Linked DNA regions of Homo sapiens. The protein of the gene in region 3 purifies or fractionates together with the protein of the main gene of each other region. This does not show direct contact. Each region holds a gene or a part of one and is shown on either strand. Other genes may lie near its edges.

Region 1 (3,500 bases), on a different chromosome or scaffold from region 3:
TATTAGTTACACTATAACATTTTTGTGCATTCTGGTAACAAATTTCTGAATGTATTCAAAAACATTACCAGCAAAATTCAGATAGCTTGGAAGAACAACAGTACCTCTCAGTTTTTCTTTAAAATAACTCCAAATTAATATTTACAGATTTTGTAAAACCTAGAATTTGGGCCTTTTAATAGCTGAAAAAAAAGCTTTATGTTAAGATTTAATTTGTATGTTTTGTAAAAATAAGTTATATTTTTCTGAGCTAAGTAAGATTCTCATTTTAACCTGATTGTCATGGAATTGCCCACTCTCTTTCTCCATCCATAAAATAACATTGTTAATACCCACTTAACCAAAATATTTCCTGTGAAGTTAAAATGAGGTCACACTTAGGAAAGTACTCAGAAGAAATCCAAGCGGTTGGAATCATTTTTCTAATAACATTGGCATCTTCTGGGAACTTCTCAGTTAATTTGTTCAAACTGATCCACTGGGGACAAAATGTTTGGAGAAGGCATGTCATTTTATTACAGTCCAATCATTGTTATATACTTATAGGAATAACAGAAGCAAAACTTGAGTTGGTAAAATGATTTGTCAGAGACATTAAAAAGTCAGTGTAATCAAGAGTGGTAAATGAAGCTACCCTGTCTGTGCTCTGGGGCCCTTGAAAGGGGACCACCAAGGGCAGTGCAGTGTTTCTCTGCCTCCTGTTTGCTAACTCTGCTCCTGCTCTTCTCTCCTGTGCTTCCGGGCTGCAGGTCTCACTCCATCGGGTAAGCGCCACAGGGCTGCGTGTGGGGCTTTCCCCACTCCCTTGCTGCCCCTTTGCTTTCCAGGGCTCCCTGTTTCTTTCACACTGTGCCTGAACCAACAAAACTACACTCTGTTTTCCAGACAGTTCCCGTGACCAGGAAGATAGTTTATAGGGCACTTAATACATTTGAACTTATTGAAGTACATCTCTATCTCATTTCTGAATCATTTACACCATTTCACTTGCTGAGCTCTCTCTCAGGAGTCTCTTTCTCTGCACCATTTCTTCCGGTGTTGACAGAGCTTCTTAGAATTGAAAAGAAGAAGAAAAAAAAACAAAGTGGAGATTGAAAGTTATATATGTTTTCTGAAACTTCTAGAAAGTAAAGTTGAGAAACAAAAACAGATTTTCTCTAGATTGTCATGTTTCTCTGAATTTCTTGTACCCATAATTTGTGTTGATGTTTCACCTTCAACTTTCTGTGCCTTCTGAAGTTGAAGGGAAGAAAGGTACCGGAAAAGCACGTACGTATGTTAAGAAGTTTGTGATTTTTAATCCCAAGCCCCCGAATTAAAACTTCTTTTAGCCGGAATCTTATTATATACTTTTATTTTTTTAATTTTTTCCTAAGAAAGCGGTCTATATTTACAGAGATACACCAATTGGTAATGCAGATGAGGCTCTTTTAGTGATGCTTTTGAAGTGTAATTTCTGAGGAAATATCTGCCTAATAGTTTCTAAATCAAGTGTCTAGGGTAAGACCGTAAGTATCCCATGAATTTGTTTGTCCTTTTCTTTCTGTGTTCTAGCAAAGTGCTACCCATACTAATGCCCTCAGTGGATATTATGAGGGAAGGGTGACAGATTTGGTCCCTGAACTATTAGCTCCTTGAGAGAAGAGAAAGCAGGGACGCTGTTGAAAAGTGTGAGGTGGGAGCAAGCACTAGGCCAGGAAAATGGACCCATTGTGCTCCTCCCCATGCCCAGCCTGATTTCTGAGTGGAACTCAATAGAAAGTAACAGGCAACCAACCAGAGGGAAGATGAATCAGCTACTAGGATTAATGGGATGAGAAGTTTAAATCTCTTAAAATTCTCAGGAATGTTTGTGTTTGTACCAGATGTTCTTGACAGTCATCTAGTACAAATCAATCATCTTGACAATCAAACCAGAATGGATGCAGAAGTCCCTATGGCCTATGAGAACTGTGTTTGCCTGGCATGTGCTTCCTTGAAAGTCTTATGTTAACTTCTTGCTTTCCTCTGGCCAGTTTCTCTACCATGGAATGATTAGCTTCTACCTGCCTGGCTCTATTTCCTGGATACTGCCTTTTGCTCCTTACTGTTTTCCTGAGCAGAAGGGAGTAGAGACCTAAGTTGGGCCTGGAGAAGATGCCCATGGGCTACTGGGCTCACCTGGGAGAAACCAGACATTCTCAGATTTCCTGGCAAAAGGAGGCTGCAGAAAGTAAAATAATATGCAACCACGGATCCACCATCTACTTTTCATTTATACCCTTGAAAGCTGACTATACCCATTATACCCAACAAAAACAAATGTCATCTTGGTTAGATGGGCAGGGAATATTTCAGATATTTGGAATTGCTGTTTTAGAACTACGAATAGGGAGTTTTTCATGTACTTATGTGTGCTCTCTTCTTTTTTCTTTTTTCCCCTTTAATCTGCTTTTGCTCTGAAGTTACTCCATTCGCCATTCCATAAGTATGCCTGCTATGAGGTAATGTGTGTAAAATATTTTATGTAATATTAATATGAAATGTGTTTAAGGTGTTATTTTATTTATATTTACTTATGGGGTTCCTCTGCTTTATGTGAAAGGAAATTGCTGATGGTCTTCAAAAGAAAAGGCTGACAATTCTGTGGAAGAATTGCGTAGCTTGGGCTTTTGACCAGACATCCTGGCTTAAATCTAGTCTTTCCTGTGTGATCCAAGACAAGTGACTTAACCTCAATTCTTTTATCCATATATTGCAAGAAATAAGACCTACTTCATATGGTGTTTGTGAGGCATAAACAAAGGAACCTACATAAAGCATTTAGCACAGTGTCTGAACATGCCAAGCAATCTTGCAAAGGTAAACTTGGGTTTCTTATTTCCGCAGAATTAAATGCTAGCCTGGGGGCAAGTTTAAATGCAAGGCTAAAGTTCTAGAGAGGATATCATTAGGATTTTTAAGGTGGATATTAAGGTGAGATGTTTGTTAAATAATAAAATGTCAGTATAATTACTGACCAGATAAAAACTGGTGAGAAAGACATTCTTAACTTCAAGTTTGCATGGCATAGTGATGCAATCAGATAAAATTAAACTAATAGCAAGACAGGAATGAGTGTTAAATTGAAAATCAGAAAATGCAGGCTCTAGCCCAGCTCTGCCAAGGATTAACTTTGCACTCTTGGGAAAATCACCTCAATGGTATCAGCTTCATCATATTTAAAATAAGAGGCTAGAACCAGATTAGCTGCTTGTCAAAGATGCCCCTCCACCCACCGAGCCCTAAGGCTGCCTAGAGATGAAGCCTTTGGGATCTTCCCCCACTTCAGTCAGAGCTATGCCTCTTCTACCTGCTTTATATTGATGTTGTTGTTTGAAGGCATTATAGAAGGAGTTTAGTTACTTTCAATAGTTTGAGACCGCCGAAGCCAAATTCTTCATATATATAATCTTTTCCTCTGTTTTTTAACTGTCATGAAGAGAAATTCTTCCTAGGGTCATTTGCAGTGCTAAAAAAGT
Region 2 (3,500 bases), on a different chromosome or scaffold from region 3:
CACAGGCTCGCTGTGGGCTCCAGCGGGTTGCTTTGAGGCCTCCTCTGTAGGCCTCGAGGGGCTGCTTCTGCGGCGGTGCAGGGAGCTGGGGGGAGGGCTAGGCAGCCGGAGGTGCCCCTGAGGTCCCTGAAATACATGGCTTTTGGGCACACTGGCTCCCAGCTGACCTGAGGACCTCATACAAAATTAAAAGGCAGAAAGGCAGGCGAGGCCAGGCCTGGGGCTGGGACCTCTGCGCCTGCCCCTGCTCAGAGCCGCCGGCCCTCCCTGTCCCACCCCAGGCCTCTCCAGGCTGAGGTGAATTAAATATCGTCTGTGTTGTATTTTTGGCAAAGTCAGTCCTTGGCCTCTGTCCCTGGGGCCTTGGGGCAGTTACCGCCACCGGGGCCTGGCTACTGTAAGGGCCAGGAAGAGGAGGAGGGGCAGGAGGAAGGTCGGGGGCTGGGGGCAGCTGGCAGCCGAGGTCTTCTGTCCTTCCTGCTCTGACAGGCCTGGGAGGGCATGGGTCAAGGGCGTCCGGGAGCTGGAGCTCTTCCTGCTGACCTTCCGGCTGCAGAGGTCATCCAGACAGCCATCACCGCTGCCCGAGCCGCTGCCGTCGTCACCTGGGAAGGAGAGGAGGCTCCGGCAGGCAGGTCCCCACAGGAGACCCCAGTGCAGCACCACCCTGTAAGGGCCCGTGCCAGGTGACCCCAACATCCTTTCGGTGTGGAATCCCAGGACCAGCAGCACCTGATCCCCGCTGACCCCTGAGGCTGGGAGACTCTCACTCCCTGGGGCTGCCTCCCTTGGTCCCTGGAGCCAAAGCCAACAGACATCCCGGCCAGGCCTCCAGGGCGCCGCAGAGGTGCAGGGCTCGGTGATCGTGCCTGGGCAGCACAGCGTCCTCAGACTCACTGTGGTGATGCCGGAGCAGAGGGCCCCTCGGGTGGGGGAACCCGGAGGGCAGTCACACCCCTGTGGCACCCCCACCAACCCTGGCCCCTTGGCCGCCCGGCCAGGCCCTGCCCTCACTGGCGTCCTGGAAGTCCACGTCGTTGCCGTTGTAGGCGCTGCGCAGCCGGTTGGTCATGATCTTCAGCTGCATGATCTGCTGCCGGATGGTCATGTCCGGCTTGGTGATGTCCACCTCCACCTCGGGGTTGTTGATCTGGTTGGCCAGGCCGTCACCCATGACCTCGGGGAGGTACCTGGGGGAAAGGCAGGCAGAGCCCAGGTCACTGCTCCAGCCCCTGCAAAGGGCCATCACCTGAGCAGGACACTCTCCCACGCTCTGAGCCTGAGATGCCCAGCAGCTTCCAGGGACCGAGCAGAGCCCACACAGGCCGCAGAGAAGTGGGGCTCAAGCCCTCCAGCAAGGGACGTGGCCCCGTGCAGACAGCACCTGGCCCAGGCACAGCCCAATGGAGGCGGCATGGGAGGGAGGGCTGTGCCAGCCAGGTGGGCACCTACCGGCCTCTGGCCATCCCGTTCCAGCAGCGGTCATCACTGGCAGTGCTCAGGGCCATCTTCTCACTGCACAGTGTCCCTGGGAGGCTGATCCAGAAGTCCTGGACGTCGCGGAGCTGGGCCTTGGCTTCGGAGACCTGTGGGGCAGCAGTCAGGCCACTGGGCTGCCAGGGCCCGCCCGCCTCTGCCTGTCTGCCTCCCTCATGCCTGGTCCAGTGGACACGCAGGGGCCACTCACCAGCTTCTCCAGCGTGCCTGAAGGTGGCCTCTCCCGCGGGGCCAGCTTGCCCCGGCGCCGCTTCTCCTCAGGCCCGGGGCCCTGGGGGTTGACCTTGGGGTTCCCGCAGCCCTGGATGACCTGGAGAGACACTGCAGGGTCCTTGGGGGGTAGTGGGGCCCCTCAAGCCCAATGGGGCCACATCCAGGACCCCCACCCCGCTGTGCTCGTCACGTCCTCCTGCCCGCACCTTGGCCGTGAGCGTGTCCCTGTTGTCCTGGAGGGCGTTGATGGCCTCCGCCAGCCACGTGTGCACGCTGCCGATGACACTCTCCACACCCGATGTACCCCAGAACTTGTCGGTGATGAGCACCATGGAGTCTAGGACAGGCGTTAACACGCGGACACACAGGCGTTAACGCGCGCACACAGGCGTTGACACGCACACGCAGGCGTCACCACGTGTGCATGTTAATGCAGTCTTGACAGCACGGGTCAGCATGGGAGATCCCACGTGTGCACTCAGGTTGGCCCGTGTGACATGTGCAGGCCACGTGCACTCAGCTTGGCCCACACCCACGTGTGCACCTGTGCCACGGGCACAGGTGAACACGCACATACACAGAGGCCATTCTGCATGCTTGCTGGCCTGCCGTGTCTCGTATGTCCACGCTGGCTCATGCAGGTGTTGACATGTACATACGCTGGCTCACCTTGGTCCAGCTTGTGTGCACATGAGCCCGTGTGAGCTGGTGTGTATGCATGCTGGCTTACCTCATGCCCCCCCCATGTACACCTTAGTTCATGTGTGTGTTGCGTGCACGGTGAGCACATGTACAAGTAAAGCTCATGCATTTTGTCAGCTCCCATCACGTTAGCACACACCTGTTGGCCCCGTGTCAGCACATGCTAGCACGTGTTGGCACAGATGCATGCTGTCCCCCCTCATGTAAGCATGTGTACATGTTAGTGGATCTGGATAAGCATGTACATATTACCACACACGTGTTGGCATTGATGCGGGTCAGCCCAGCTCATGTCATCACATGCGCCCAGGAGCACACGCTGTACTGGTGGGCACTGGCCCACTGTGTGTCAGCAAGTGAGCACGCCAGTTCGCATGTGTCAGCCTGTCATGTGACGGTGCATGTATGTGTTAGCTTAAACAAGTGCCGGTCCTCGATGAGTCACACGTGTTGGCATGTATGCACACCGAGGTGCTTGCTAAGTGGGGAAGGACAAGAAACTATGACCCCACAGGGCTCCCTCCCTGGCAGCTGCCCCAAGTCACACATCACTCAGGACATTCAAAAGGCACCCTGGCCCCTCAACCCTGCAGCACCACCCAGATCTGGCCCGGGTCAGGGCATCCCTGATCAGGTCCCTGGGTCCAAGCTCTAAGCTAGGGACCACCCGCCCCCCAGGACCCCCAGTCGTGCACTCCCCAAGACAGTTCCAGGCCGCTCTCGCGGGTGGGGGCTCACCCAGGAGGTTCCTCCACTCGGCGTCCAGGTCGGCCTGGTTGGCAAGGCAGCCCTTGAGCACATTTCGGCAATAGTCAGGGCAGGGCCTGGCGCCGGGGACTCCCAGGCAGTGAGCACAGTAGACCAGCTTCATGACAGCTCTCGAGCACTCCGGGCCCAGGGGGACCTGGGGAGCAAGGGACCCTAAGCCAGGCCCCGAGGCCCTGGGGGTGCCTGGCCCCGGCCAGCCCCTAACGAAGCCCCAGGGTAGGGGGCTCTGGAGGGAAGTCAGGGGAGGCCTCTGCTCTGCCCCAGCTCGTGGTGGTCGCTGCCTGACTCGCAGGGCCTGCCAGCCCAGACGGCCCTCATTT
Region 3 (3,500 bases):
GGAGTTTGTGACCAGCCTGGCCAATATAGTGAAACCCCATCTCTACTAAAAAATACAAAAAAATTAGCCGGGCATAGTGGCGGCACCTGTAGGCCCAGCTACTTTGGAGGCTGGGGCAAAAGAATTGCTTGAACCTGGGAGGCGGAGGTTGCAGTGAGCCGAGATCGTGCCACTGCACTCCAGCCTGGGCGACACGGCGAGACTCTGTCAAAAAAAATATTGTATATATATATATATATAAAAATTAGTCAAGCTTGGTGGCGTACACCTGTAGTCCCAGCTACTAGGGAGGCTGAGGCACGAGAATTGCTTGAACCCAGGAGGCAGAGGTTGTGGTGAGCAGAAATTGCGCCACTGCACTCCAGCCTGGGCGACAGAGTGAGACTGTCTAAAAAGAAAAAAGGACGGGTGCGGTGGCTCACACCTGTAATCCTAGCACTTTGGGAGGCCAAGACAGGTGGATCACGAAGTCAGGAGTTCAAGACCAGCCTGACCAACATGGTGAAACCTTGTCTCTACTAAAAATACGAAAAAATTAGCTGGGCATGGTGGCGGGTGCCAGTAATCCCAGCTACTCGGGAGGCTGAGGCAGGAGAATCGCTTGAACCCAGGAGGCTGAGGTTGCAGTGAGCTGAGATTGCGCCACTGCACTCCAGCCTGGGCGACAGAGCAAAACGAAAAAAAGAAAAAAAAAAAAAAGAAAAATGAGTTATTCAGAGAAGATTCCAGGACACTTTATCTAATCACAGTAATAATGGCTATAGTAAATACCCAGGTGATCATCTAACCTCACCCTGCCTTCTGGGTGCATTGCAGAATTAAGGAGTGGGAAGTCACTCCAGAACTCTCTGCCTGTCCATCTAAAGTCAATCTGATTTCTCTACATTTTCCTTTTCTCCAATCATCTTACACCTAAGGCAAATACAGACACTGTGATCCTCTAATGAAATAGCTGAGAACATTAGTAAGGGTTAAAGACAGCAAATATTCCTACAGCCTCTACAGTTTCCAAGGCAAGCTCAGAGAAGGACAGGAGACCATCCTATGAAGACCCAATAACTCCGAGGAAACCTTTCTTCTCTGTCTCTTTAAGAAACAGCTAGTTCTCTCTGTCAGTGGATACTGTTTTCCCCCTTTTGATACACTATTTCCCCCATTAGATCTTGTTACTATTTACCTTGGTTATTGTATTAGTCTACGTGGTAATGGTGTTTTGAATAGACTGTCAAAGGAAAAATGAAGTGGGTCTTTTCAAAGTCACTTTGCCATGCAATTCAGGAAATTTGTAATTTAGAAAGCTCAACCAGGAAAAGTTTTTATCTAACAGCTATTTCTTCATAAACTTAAAAAAGAAGTATTTTTCTCTAATAGAACCACAGCTTTTCTTTAAAAAGACAAAGAAGTTTTAATTTTGGTTTATTTTAGGAATATATCCATTTCTGAATCTACGTAAGTGTAATAATTAAAAGCATTATGAAAATAAAAGTTACCTATTAATTGTGGGTTTCTCTGGAAAATGTAAATTCAAACCTGCTCTTATTGACCTCAATATGTCATTTTAAATGTGAAATTAAAATTGTGTCTCATCAAAAACTAAACTTATCACAGATTATCCAAACACAAATGCACACAGTTTACATTTACCAACATCAGTTTCAAACATCCCAATAGTATGCTTTAGAAAGTGTTTTAGCATCTTAAGCACTTATGTTCCATATTTTAAGGACTACTTCAGAATCTAACAGATTTTTTAAATCCTCTAAATCACCCCAAATACTATAAATGGTAATTTTAAATAAAAAAGATTAAACATCCCGTTGTATGCAGCTCTCAAACCAATAAGCCAGATAACGCTAGAAATCGGCATAAAAGCTCTCCATCCACCACCTGCCACGACAACGTGCACACTGGATCTGCCAAGAGGGCCCCGAGCATTTCAGGGGTGGGTGGGATGCCTGACTGCTCCGCTTGCTCTATAGCCCCCAAATAAGTCTAAAGCCAGCTGGCGTTCTTTTCAAACACATACCCACCATCGCCAGCTTCCCAGCCCCCAACCACTGTGCATTTTGGGAGAAAAACAAGGATTTAACTTAAATTTTAGAAAAACTAAAGTTTAGTTTTATGAAGAAAGTTATTTCAGTGCATGCCATATACTTTTTGGCATATAAAGGAAACCACGTGCACATAATGTAAGAAGCAGAAAGGAGTAAGTTGAGGGGAAGATGGCCTGTGGATGAAGTGGCAGCAGGTAGTGACTGCACCGTCCCCCTGGGGCATGTGTGGTGTATTAAAAGGCCGAAGAGGTCTCCTCTGGGGGAGATCATGAGACGGATATAGGATCCAGACTGGTTTTTTTTTTAATGGTTCTAGGGTACAAAAAAAAATGGTAGAAAAAAAAGTTTTACGTTGCAGACAGTGAGTAAGAGTGACTCAATTAGACATTCTCTGCTTCTCTCTCAGAAGAGAGGGGCAGCAGGAGTGAGGCTTTATGGGGAAATAACCTGGGTTTCCACGCAGCCCATAAGCAGCTCGTGGGACTCTGAGCAACCCACTAACTTCTCTAAGATTATTTTGAGTTCCAAAATGAGTGTTTAGTCATGAGCTTTTAAACCTTCTGCTCCAAGGAAAGTACTTACAAAGGACTGAGGTTTCGATAGTGGTTAAAAGCAGCCACTGGCTTTCTGTAAGTGGATCCTGCGTGGACGCGGAACAAAACAGATTGACCAATTTAGGCAGGACTTGGTTTATTTCTAATCAGGCAACACTAACTACACAGTGGCAGACGGTCTGCTAGAGCCTGGTCCATATCTCAGAGCAAAATTGCAGATAAGTAAGACATTTGGGGTTATGACTTCCATCTGCAATGTCCAAGGAGAAACGTGAAAGTATCAACCAAATCCACATTTATAGTCCTCAGTAAGAGCAACCACAATCATCATACTAGAAAGGAATGACTTAAGGTATTAGTCTCCATTCACTATGACAAGAAGCACCTCTAATCTACAAGCAATTTAACGTAATACTGATGAAATATTAGAAGTATACACTGGATCTCTTCCATAAATAATTTTTCATTGAAGAAGTTAGTATCGCTCTCTCTAAATTAATACTGAAGATGTCAATATGTGAAAAGGCTACCCATTTTATTCAAGAGCCCCCCTTCCCCTTTTTTCCCCCCCTGAAGAGTCCATATTACCTAAGATAAAATGGCCAAGGCTTAGGAGAAGTACAGTGTAGCTCCATCTACACGGATTGAAATCCTAGGAAACTTTTTAAAAGACATAACCACTATATCTAAAATCCCCTTCCTTACAGTGAACACCTGACAGATAGAGTAAAATATATGACTTCCCTCCAGAATCCGTAAGATACAAAAACCTGTTTAAGGAAGCTGTTAAACAACAATTTACCCAAAATGAGAGTGAATTCACCTTTGCTCAACAACAAAGTGTCCAGAAGGACAAAAGCAAATCCTTGGGCATATCCCTGAAGTAAATGTC
Region 4 (4,281 bases), on a different chromosome or scaffold from region 3:
AGTCGGCCACTGCAAAGGGTAAAGACAGCAATCTTGTATGAACAAAGTTAAACATAACGTGCTAGACACAGGTCTTTGCAAAACCATGCAGTAGCCAATAGGTCCACCATACCACCCTTCATTTGGAAATTGATGCTAAGGTGCCATAGGTACATTTCCAAATGCTCTTAAAATGTTTAGGTTCATATTAAAATAAAAATGGATATTTATGGTACAATGAGAACCAGAAAAACTGCAAAATTATACACAGGCCTAAGGGCAGAAATACCCCAAAAGACGACACAGTGACAATATTTTCCAACTTGTGCTTTTTTGTTTTTAAAACAAGGCTGATGATTCTGAAATCAGGTCAATGTCTATCACTTTTTTCGTTGATGTTAAATGCACTAAGGGAATATAGATTCTTCAATTATACTTTGAAACAACATCATTTCCCTAAGTCAGGACTTTTTTATTGCAAAATTTAACAAACCACCAAACTCAAGTTTAATTATTTCTGCTTTATTATTGGTCATGAATAAAGACTTCTTTTAAAAAATAATTACAAAGAATTTATGACTAAAATATACTCCGTAACCAACTTGCTCTGAAATTAATAATTTGAAAATGGCAAAGAAAAAAAAAAACAGCCCACAACATATTAACTTCACTCTTCAATTAGGGGAAATAAACAAGGTCAAAATTAGTTTAAACAACATACTGAGTAATAAAAAAGTTGTGCAGAAGTCCCAATGCCTCCAAAAAACTGATAGAATGTGCTTAATATATATATCCCCACATGGTAACATAAAAAATCCAAGTTTTCCAGTAAAAATGTTCTGTTCATGTTCCAATACCTAAATCTGGGAAAACAAATTCAGGCAGATGAGATAAGAACGTCACCACAATAAAATAAAGTCATCAAAACTTAGTGAACTAAAATTTAAAAGGTAGAGGAATTATTTTTCCTAATTTGACCTAATTTGACCACACAGTAATTACTTCCAGAAGACAAAAGATCCAATCCAGGTAAAATAAATCTTTATTTTATTATTTTACCTGATCCTAAAGAAAATATTCTACGTGAGTTGATGGATACATTGGTCAAGTTTTATGCCAAAAAAATTACGCAAACTATACTCTGAAAGAGCTATCCAGACTCCTTGCCAAAAGGCCAGCATAACTTTCAGAGTAGAGATCGTGAGTTACCACAGATGCTGATTGAAACAGAGCTAACAGCAGCTTTCTCCTCATTCCCACCCCGTGTGTAGGAGTACGCAGTCTCATACCACCACCAGTTGGAGGATGATCTAGTCTGGAGACAGAACGGTGTAGAACAAAACCCTTGCCAGGGTCCCAAACCTCTCTTTAGAACTCTAATTAAAGGTACTTCCGTTTCCCACACAACTTGGAATGAAGGGGAAGCAACGACTGTTAAAACATTTAAAAACTAAGCCTTTATCTATTTATTTAGAAAACACACTATGCAAAGAAGCCAATTCCTTACATTAAAAATATTTATTTGCAACAGCTCTCCTTTTTAAGGCCTCAACAGATTGGACTAAACCACACCCCTCCATAAATGGCACATTCCATACAATAGCCTGGAGAATGGCATAGGACGATTCCACCGACAGCTGGGGGAATAGCAAACTTGTTGAAATTCCGAGAATGAAGTCTGATGGTTACCCGAACCTAGCCCTTTTATTACTAAAGTCACTCGGGGACAAGAGGGTTACAAAAATATCCCGAGACGCGTACGCGGGTGAGAGTGGAACGAGAACCACACGGGATTTGGGCCGTGCTGTTAACCCGCACCTCCCTGAGTACGGACATTTCCCCGAGGAAGGACATTTCTAGTCGGAGAGAAAGAGCGAACTTTGGGGTTAACTCTCTCAAAACTCTGAGGTGGGGAGAGAGGCAGCAGCCCATTATTTTCCAGGATCCAGTCCCGAACTCTCACTTTTGCCCGGGGGGAAAAAAACGGGTCCCGCCCACGCTCGGCCCGATCCGGGAGGCGGGGCCTGCAGCGACCCCGAAGGACAGAGGCGGGGCCGGTTGGCAGTGCTGCCCCTCCCCCTTTGCCAGGAACACCCCCGTCCGCTACAGAGAGGGCTCAGGGCCCCCACCCCCGCGCCAGTCGCTGGGGGAAGGGGCAATACGGGTGCCTCCGCCCCTCCTCGCTGAAGGTGGGGAGTGGAGCTCGAGTCCGCCCGCCTCCCCGCGCTGGCTCCAAGGGGACGGCCCCGAGGAGGTGGGGCCTCTTGGGGGCGCTGACTTCACACCCCTCCCCCTCCGGCCGCTGGCGGCTCAGGGACACCCCGCCCGCTCTAGTGCGGTGGGTGGGGGAGGCAGCTGAGCAGACCGGAGCCCTGCAGCGGCGCGGGGCGGGGAGGGGCGCGCGCACGGGCGCGCAGCCACCACCCCCGCGCGCCAGCAGGGCCCCCCACGCTCAAGGGTGCGCGCGGGCCCCGAAAGGGAGGAGGCCGCGCGCGGCACCGGGGATGGCGGACTCTAGCCTTCTGTCCCCCACTCTTTTCACCACTCGCCCCCATCCCCCTCCAACCCGCTCCAGGCCTCAGACTCCGCACTGACCTGACAGGCCGCGACATGTTCGCTGTCGAAACAGGACCGAGTCGAGAAGCCAAAGACCAGGACCCCCCCCACCCCGCGCGCTCGGCGCCCCACCCCCCCCGAACTTCAGCCGATGGGACCGCTGCTGCCGAACCCCGAGCTGCTGGCTTCTCAAACTCCGCTGCTCTTTGGTTCAGGGCTCCTGGAACAGACGAGCCCCCCGCTCCCCCGTCTCTTCAAAATGGATGAATCAAACCAGCCGAAAATGCGCCAAAGCCGCCGTGCAACCAAACCCACTAGGGTTTGTGCGCTCCTCCCCAACACGCCTGCTCATTGGAGACTTCTGCCAGATGCGCCCAGATCATTAGTCCGTTTGAATCATCACGTCTTCCAGGCCCCGCCCTGCTCTCTGATAGGCTCCACCTTCACCGTGGGGGTCCTGTTAGTCAAGATGCTCTGAGAGCGCACGGCCGCAAAACAAAAATGGTCGCTGCTTAGCCCGCCCCCTGGTTTCCACTCCAGAGTTGCAGATTCGTCTGGGGTCGTATCTTAGAAAGACTAGAAAAAAAGATTTATGTAGGGTTCAGCGTTGCTCAGTGTTAGTTTAATGGTGTTTCATCTCGTCTGCCTTGATCACCTTGAAAATCCTCTAATAGCAAAACCCGTGGGAGAGGCAGCAGATTCGTCACTGCGGGGCTGCTACAGAATTGGAGGGAAATTCCTTAGGTTCAAAAAATTTGACCTTAAACCTACAAGCCCCTTACCCTGGCTTCGGCATTAACCCTCAGGGACCAAATGAGGCTGCTGGAGTAGAGAGGCAGGATCATAATCAAGGAATATCTTCACCCCCAATTACCATTCTCCATTCTGGACCTTGAGATCCACTTCAGGGTCATTAAAGTCCCAGTCTGGTGCATTACTATTTTAAGAAAAGAGTCAGGTGTACAATAACTAAGAGCATGAGCTCAGGGGCCACAAGGTATTTCAGGTGGAATCCCAGGTCCACTACTTAATGGTGGTATAACTTTCCTTCTCTGTGCCTCAGTTTTCTCATCTGTAAAATGGGAAACAAGGGTACCTAACTGCATAGGCTTATTAGTATTAAATGAGTTGATATATCTATCAAAAGTCTTTAGGATAGTCTCTGGCTCACAGTAAGTGCTACGTAAGTGTTAAATCCAAGTTTTAAAAGATGATTCCGTCCCTGGGTAGAGATGGGTGGAGCTGGCTCAAGACCCTATGAATTCTATTGATTTACCCTTGCACTTTGAAAAACAAAACAAAGACTCTTCGAAGTCATATAACTGAAAGTAACGCACATCATTTCACTTAAATCCGTGAGCATTTGTTGGATGCCTAATACTCTCAAAGGCAGAGCTCAGGATTCCTATGTGAATGGCTAAGGCTGAGTCTGCTATCGAAAATAGACGTCAATCCCTGTCACAGTCAAAGCGATCATTTTTGTTTGGTGGCTGTGCGCTCTCAGAGCATCTTGACTAACAGGACCCCACGGTGAAGGTGGGGCCTATCAGAGAGTAGGGTGGGGCCTGGAAGACGTGATGATTCAAACGGACTAATGATCTGGGCGCATCTGGCAGAAGTCTCCAATGAGCAGTCAGTTAACAACCAATTGAAGATACACTTTCCAAACAACAACAACAAAAAACACACCACATCTGCCTCCTGAAAGTCTCCCTTTGTAAAATCTGGCTTCCCAAAAAGAAGAGA

The links. The genes of interacting proteins can lie anywhere in the genome.
Region 1: the proteins of BASP1 (region 3) and TPD52L1 fractionate together in Homo sapiens (co-fractionation; one large-scale study listed by BioGRID). This does not show direct contact.
Region 2: the proteins of BASP1 (region 3) and GPC1 purify together in Homo sapiens (co-immunoprecipitation; one large-scale study listed by IntAct). This does not show direct contact.
Region 4: the proteins of BASP1 (region 3) and NUCKS1 fractionate together in Homo sapiens (co-fractionation; one large-scale study listed by BioGRID). This does not show direct contact.

What each region holds. Positions count from the first base shown.
Region 1 is NC_000006.12:125,251,273-125,254,772, forward strand, and holds part of TPD52L1 (tumor protein D53), read left to right. Parts: intron 1-749; coding exon of another isoform or gene 750-768; exon of another isoform or gene 769-1,337; intron 1,338-2,444; coding exon 2,445-2,483; intron 2,484-3,500.
Region 2 is NC_000002.12:240,463,163-240,466,662, reverse strand, and holds part of GPC1 (glypican-1 precursor), read right to left. Parts: intron 3,317-3,500; coding exon 3,151-3,316; intron 2,048-3,150; coding exon 1,917-2,047; intron 1,808-1,916; coding exon 1,688-1,807; intron 1,587-1,687; coding exon 1,453-1,586; intron 1,191-1,452; coding exon 1,015-1,190; intron 606-1,014; coding exon 373-605; 3' UTR 1-372. UniProt on the Homo sapiens protein: Cell surface proteoglycan that bears heparan sulfate. Binds, via the heparan sulfate side chains, alpha-4 (V) collagen and participates in Schwann cell myelination.
Region 3 is NC_000005.10:17,224,131-17,227,630, reverse strand, and holds part of BASP1 (brain acid soluble protein 1), read right to left. Parts: intron 1-3,500.
Region 4 is NC_000001.11:205,747,383-205,751,663, forward strand, and holds the start of NUCKS1 (nuclear ubiquitous casein and cyclin-dependent kinase substrate 1), read right to left. Parts: upstream 2,801-4,281; 5' UTR 2,592-2,800; coding exon 2,575-2,591; intron 1-2,574.